Homo sapiens: one gene and its partner. The protein of the gene in region 2 purifies or fractionates together with the protein of the main gene of each other region. This does not show direct contact. Each region holds a gene or a part of one and is shown on either strand. Other genes may lie near its edges.

What was found. The genes of interacting proteins can lie anywhere in the genome.
Region 1: the proteins of FTO (region 2) and TKFC fractionate together in Homo sapiens (co-fractionation; one large-scale study listed by BioGRID). This does not show direct contact.

The regions. Positions count from the first base shown.
Region 1 is NC_000011.10:61,339,728-61,343,227, forward strand, and holds part of TKFC (triokinase/FMN cyclase), read left to right. Parts: intron 1-1,708; coding exon 1,709-1,787; intron 1,788-2,095; coding exon 2,096-2,185; intron 2,186-2,733; coding exon 2,734-2,768; intron 2,769-2,846; coding exon 2,847-2,931; intron 2,932-3,027; coding exon 3,028-3,117; intron 3,118-3,500.
Region 2 is NC_000016.10:54,116,656-54,120,155, reverse strand, and holds part of FTO (alpha-ketoglutarate-dependent dioxygenase FTO), read right to left. Parts: 3' UTR 1-3,500.

The sequences.
Region 1 (3,500 bases), on a different chromosome or scaffold from region 2:
GCCTTGGTTCAGGGGTCATCTACTCATGCCTGATGGCTGCAGCCACCTCCTCACTGGGCTCCCCTGCCTGCTTCCTGCCTTCTGGCCTTGCTCATCCATTCTCCACACTACTGCCAGAGGTGTCTTTTTAAAATGTGTATCTGACTAGGTTATTCATCCACTGAAAGCCTTCTTGGGTGCCTACAATCAATACAAGCCCTCACCATAGCTCCCTGACTCCCCACCTTCATCTCCCATCATCCCTGCCTTCCTCTTTTTTTTATTTTCTTTTATTTATTTTTTATTTATTTATTTATTTTTTGAGGCAGAGTCTCACTCTGTTGCCCAGGCTGGAATGCAGTGGCGCGATCTTGGCTCACTGCAGTCTCCGCTGCCCAGGTTTAAGTGATTCTCCTTCCTCAGCCTCCCGAGTAGCTGGGATTACAAGGCGCCTGCCACCACGCCCGGCTAATTTTTGTATTTTTAGTAGAGATGTGGTTTCACCATGTTGGCCAGGCTGGCCTCGAACTCCTGACCTCAAGTGATCTGCCCGCCTCGGCCTCCCAAAGTGCTGGGATGACGAGCGTGAGCCACCGCGCCCAGCCATCCCTGCCTTCCTCTTTTTTTTTTTTTTTTTTTTTTTTTTTTTTTTTTTTTTTGAGACGGAGTCTCGCTCTGTCGCCCAGGCCGGACTGCGGACTGCAGTGGCGCAATCTCGGCTCACTGCAAGCTCCGCTTCCCGGGTTCACGCCATTCTCCTGCCTCAGCCTCCCGAGTAGCTGGGACTACAGGCGCCCGCCACCGCGCCCGGCTAATTTTTTGTATTTTTAGTAGAGACGGGGTTTCACCTTGTTAGCCAGGATGGTCTCGATCTCCTGACCTCATGATCCACCCGCCTCGGCCTCCCAAAGTGCTGGGATTACAGGCGTGAGCCACCGCGCCCGGCCCCTGCCTTCCTCTTATGGTCTCTTCACGCCAGCTCCTGTACCTGCCAGGCTATGGATCATCTCTGGCTTTGCTTATGCAGTATCTGTGGCCTGGAAAATTCTTTCCTTGTCCAGCCTCCTTTTGGCCTGGCTAACTCCTACCATTCTACAGAGGCCCAGCTCTGATGTCTCCCCACCTGGAAGGCTCTCCCTGATCTCCATCTCCCCACTACCCTGAGCTGGTTGGCAGCCAGTCCTAGTGTGGACTCCATCACTGTAATTACCACCTCACATAAATTTTCAATTTATGGGTATCTGCTTCCCTAGCCTCTCCCCAGGCTGTGAGTTCTTGAAGGTGGAGACTGTGACTTAGTCGCCTTTTTTCCTTTTCAGCATATACTAGATGCTTGGTAAAAATTGGGTGGATGGATGGATGGATAGATGGGTAAAGTGACCCAAAATAGCAAGGCTATGGGAGAGAGAACTCTGGAACTCTAGAGTTGGGAAACTGGCCACCCACTGGCTGTGTGACATTGGACAAGTCACCGCCCCTCTCTGGGTCCATTTCCCCATTTGTAAAGTCTCTTCTGACTCCAACAGACTGGAATTCTTGAAGATTCCTGGCAGGTACACTGTGAATGAGGGGAGTTTGCTCTTCTGCCCTAAATGTGATGGGCCAGGTTGAGTGTGAAAATCCTGAGGTTCCCCCTTCCCAACAAGAAATTCATCCCCTGCCTGTCTTCTACCCCACATGGTACAGTGATACCCTCCCCCCTGGGGCTTTTACCTCTTTGTGGCTGCAGGTGGCAGGTGCTCTGGCTGAGGCTGGTGTGGGGCTGGAGGAGATCGCAAAGCAGGTGAACGTGGTCGCCAAGGCCATGGGTGAGTGCTGGCCTGGGAGCTGGGGAAGAGAGTGGGGAAGGTTGGACAGCCCTGGGGCGAGGAGCAGGTTCCTGTTGGCTGCCTAGCGGTGCTCCCCAGGTTATTCCCCAGGGGTCTAGGGAGTGTATCCCTGGGGGAGCTCCTGGGGACTGGTGGCCTTGGGTACCATGGCTGAGGTGGAGAGTCTGGCAGCCTTTCTCAGAGAAGAGGGTACCTGTGGGCAGGGCCTCTGAGATGCTGCTGCCACCCTTCCTGATGCCCAGTGCTAAGAGTGGAACAGTCATCCCTTCATGCCTTGTTTCTCATAGGTACCCTGGGGGTGAGCTTATCCTCCTGCAGCGTCCCTGGTTCCAAACCCACCTTCGAGCTCTCAGCCGACGAGGTGGAGCTGGGCCTGGGTAAGCTTGTGGCCATCCATCCCAGCCCTGCCTGCTCCTTGGCCCTGGACTTTGCCCACCTTGCATACCCTTAGAGCCATCAACCTGGTCCTCTCCCCAGGTGGTCTTAGTATTTTTACCTGGTCATTTGAGGCCCAGCCTGGGCCAACCTGCCTGATTTCTACCTGCTTTGCTGTCTATACCCACAGCTTTGGCCATGTGGAGCTCTGTGCACTGCCCACCTCCTAGCCTTTGCCTGCCATTCCCAGGTCCTCCTGTCCCTGCCAGAATACACCCTTCTTTCAACGGCTGTTCAAAGATCACCTGGCTGCAAAGCTTTCTTTCCTCGCCTGTGCTTCCTCCTTAACTATCTCTAGTTAAAGCTATCTCCACCACCAGGCCACAAGCTCCCAGAGAACAGAGATCGTGTTTTTCATTATTCTGTCCATTTCCATCCCCCACTCCCGCCCACTTACTGTGTGAGTCCAGCACTGTGTGAGTCCTTGATAAAAACGATGAGCAAATCCCCAGGCCTTGAGTGGGTCAGCAGTGACCACATCTATCCGCAGGGATCCACGGGGAAGCTGGTGTGCGCCGGATAAAGGTAGGTGGTCCCTCTGGCACAGGCCGCCCTAAGGCCAAGGCCCCCCAGATGCAGCTCATTCCTGGCTCCCTCTGACAGATGGCAACCGCCGATGAGATTGTGAAACTCATGCTCGACCACATGACAAACACCACCAACGCGTCCCATGTGCCTGTGCAGCCCGGTGGGTAGCCTCTCGCCCGCGTCTCCCAACCCCTCCTAAACCTCTGGGGAGGAGACGCCCAGAGGGTCTCACCTGGGGTGTCATGTCTACCCGCAGGCTCCTCAGTTGTGATGATGGTCAACAACCTGGGTGGCCTGTCATTCCTGGAACTGGGCATCATAGCCGACGCTACCGTCCGCTCCCTGGGTGAGCCATGCACTGGGAAGGGGATCCTACAGCCCTTTGGAAAGGGCTGAGGGAGGGTCTTGTGATGGCAGAGAACACGGACTGTGCGTCAGATAAGCCTGAGTTAAATCGTCTCTCTGCCACCTAATTGCCGGATACCTTGAGCCTCTGTTTGTTTTCTTGTCTGCAAATTGGGGGTAATAATAATGGTACCTGCTTTATACCGTTGTTTTGAGGATTAAGTGAGATTAAACATATGTAAGACACTCAACACAGCGCCCAGCACCTGGCACGAACTGAGTAAATGAGACCTGTAATTACTCATCTTCCCCGACGTAGGGGACACCTCCAGGGAACGTGGTCATTTGTGGGGTTATTGAGGGATGCCTGCCAGGAGGAAATCA
Region 2 (3,500 bases):
CAAGGCTGTCAAATTCACTTTGATTTTGGCCTCAGCTGGGCTTCATGCTTTCAGAACAATTTCTCCCACCGCCTTTCACTTGAAGTCCTTGGCAGGGATGCCTCTCCCATTCTGCACGCACAGCTCACTTAATGGGCACAAAGAAATGGGAGAAAGCTCAGGGAAAAAAGAAATAACAACCCGACCCAGTCTAAATCTTGGGAAATCGAACAGGGTCTGCATCTCTTTGAAAACTATACACAGACATTTCTGGTCGAAGTGAAACCATGCTTCTCACAGAGGGTTGGAGACAGCAAATGGAGCCTTAGTCATACACAGTTAGTTTCAAACTTATGTTGCTGCTCACAGGGAGAAATCAATGTACGGTATATTAAAAACAATCACTGCAGCCCTTAAATGATCCAATAGTTTAGCTTTGAATGCATTCAAGCTAATGGGGGCTTTAATGGCTTCTGACAGATCATTCCATTGATCAAGGGGCATGTATGAAATACGCTGCCTACTAAACTCTGTTTTGATTTTGAGAAAAGAAAACTAAACGTCCATGGTAAACATGGCTTGATTGTTCACATGTTCACCGAGATCCCTCTCAGCGTGACCCTGGTTGGGAGCAGAGGAGGGAAGGATAATGGAATCCTATATACCTGGTTTGCTTCTCTCCTGACTCTAATCAAGGCATAATCAACGGGAAACCTCTGTCTGCAGAGTTGGGGGCAGGGGGAAGGAAGGTGACCAGCGGTCCAGTTTTCTGGGTTGGATGAGTTATAAGCCACGGCTTTGGCTGTCTGAGAAACTGATTCATCTCTTGCAAGCCTTGGGGGTTTGAAGGTTAACTGTTCTGGTTCCAACGTGGAAAGCCGAATTCCCTATTTGAAAGGATAATCAGGTTTTTCAGTTGGGGACAGCAGTTTTGCAAAGAAACAAATGAAATCATGCTCCTCCATCCGTGTGTCTGGAGGCTCCAAGATTATTTTATGAAGTGCTGAACGTACCTCTACTCAAGAAAGGCAGTTTCCACAGGGTGCATGGAGTCTGAAAAACCTAAAGAGGCCTTAACATGATTCATTGAGACTATTCTTGTGCAAGAGAGGTTTCTATTTCTCCAAGCCCTGGCAGCCTGCTGTGGCTTTAAGAGTGAGCCATAGACTGTTCCTGTGTCAGACTGGTCTTGCCTGATCAGAAGTAATGAATGTATGTAGAAATTCTTCCATTACCCAGCCAAACTAAATTGGTTTCACAAAACGAATAATAATAATTTCTCTCCCTTGGACTTGAGTAGGACTTTAGCATTTACAAAGCCTTTTTCCAAATGTTATCTCCACCTGCTAGCTGCACAGTCGTGGTTTTACCTGTGTGGATGGGGATGGATCTGGCTTGTGGACCCTCTCTCCTTCTCTCGGAGGCTGGGAAGGGAAGAAGGGTGCCCTTGAAACTGGCACCACGAAGACAGTGATCACCTGTGGTCTTTGTTTAATCTTTAACACCAAGCAAGGCTGTGTGGAGGGCAAGGCGTAGTGGCTCACGCTTGTAATCTCAGCGCTTTGGGAGGCCGATGCAGGCAGATCACTTGAGCCTCGGAGTTTGAAACCAGCCTGTGTAATGTGGTGAAATCCTGTCTCTACAAAAAAATTAGCCGGATGTGGTGGCAAGTGCCTATGATCCCGACTACTTAGGAGGCTGAGGCAGGAGAATCGCTTGAGCCCATGAAGTCGAGGCTGCAGTGAGCCGTGATCTCACCACTGCACTCCAGCCTACGTGACAGGGTGAGACCCTGTCTGAAAAAAAAAAAGAAAAAAAAAAAAGACTGTGTGAAAGAGCTTCATGCCATTATCACTAATGAAGAGGGTCAGAATTACCCGAAGCACACAGGATCTGGAACCATTGAACTTCTCCTAAACTTCCTGTAGAACGGTCTTGACCCTTTTGGCCCCACCTGTAGGGCACCTTGCTGTCCTAGGCCAGCACTTCCCATCTCTCAGCAGGAAACTACCGCATTTACCAGATCAGAAACAAAGGGAATCTCCGCCTGCTAGAAGTGCTTCATTTGTATTGGTGCCATGTTTAGTCAGTGGCTTTTGTAAAATTGATGAATTTTGTCTAAAGGCAAGTGCAGACAGGCAAACAGATCTGTATCTGCTGTTATCCATTTAGCTTGACACACATGTGCAGAGGAACTATTTTACCTCAATTCTTTCAGGATTGATGAAAAGTAAATGCGAGCAAAGTCATGAACTGCATCATTGGAAAAGAATCACTGAATCTAATGCTGGAGGTTAATTAATGCTTCCCTCCCCTTGAAATAGACTGACCCTGGTACTTAGACATTCAGAGTCAATAAACAATTGTTGTACACAGATCATCCATTAGAAGGTGATGGCAAGAATTTTTTTAAGCAAATCCAAAATTGCAATGGGTGACCTACTCCCACTGTAGAAATGAGAGTCCTAAAACATCATTTTTCATAATATCTCATTTATAAAAAGTTCCATGCCATCCGCCTAGCGAAAAATGGAAGCTGTGAAGAGCAAATGGGATAATATATGGGATAGTGACACAATATTCTTCTTGAACAAGCCACAGCTATCTTTAGTCCCTTTAATATTTTGGTCAGGATATCACGGATCATATTTTTCATCATAATAATGTACATGCGTGGCGTGATTTTTAAGTACCAGACATGATATGAATCACTTAACATGGCTGATCGTAGGGGACAGAACAATCCAATGAGCTAGGCATTATCATCATCCCCATTATAGAAACAAAGACTGGAGCGCAGAGGGGTTAAGTGATTTGGCCCAGTCACAAAGCTACAACTGTTACCACAGGAAACTTGGTTAATAATAATAGCTAGTACCTCACTGAAGCCCAGTATATGTCAGGTACTGTGGGAGGCATTTTAAATACGCATTAACTTATTGAACCTTCACAACAACCTTAGGTGATGGATTACTACTATTCTATTTTGTAGATAAGACAACAAAGGTTTGAAGAGGTGGTAGAGTGAGAATCACACACAGAATCAGAACTTAAACTCAGAAAACCTCTTCTGCCACTCAGGAATCCAAAGATTTGGAAAATCTGATGAATGACAGCGGGATAGAAAGAGCAGAGGATGCAGAGAGGCTCAGTTTCCAATGTAGGAGGAGGATTTGGGCCAGAGAGCAGGAAGAACTTGGCTGACAAGGTTCTGAGAGGTGGGAATTAGGACTGTCCTGGGAGCATGGGGCCGATGGGACACAGGACTATGGGAGCAGGGCTGCCTGGGAACCGGGGTGGAAAGCTGTCTGGTCCTTCTAGCCGGGATCTGGGGGGCACTTGTGGTTCTCCTTGTTAATAAGAGAGAATGGAGAACCAGATCTTCAGATACTTTCCTGGAGTTTCCAGGAATCTATCGGGTGTCTCAGGTGAGCGAGAGAACCAGGTGAATGCCTTCTGACAACCCCCAAAACCTGCCTCCCAAACACAGCAGTGGCCCAGGGGTGCCCTTGCTGTCTTGC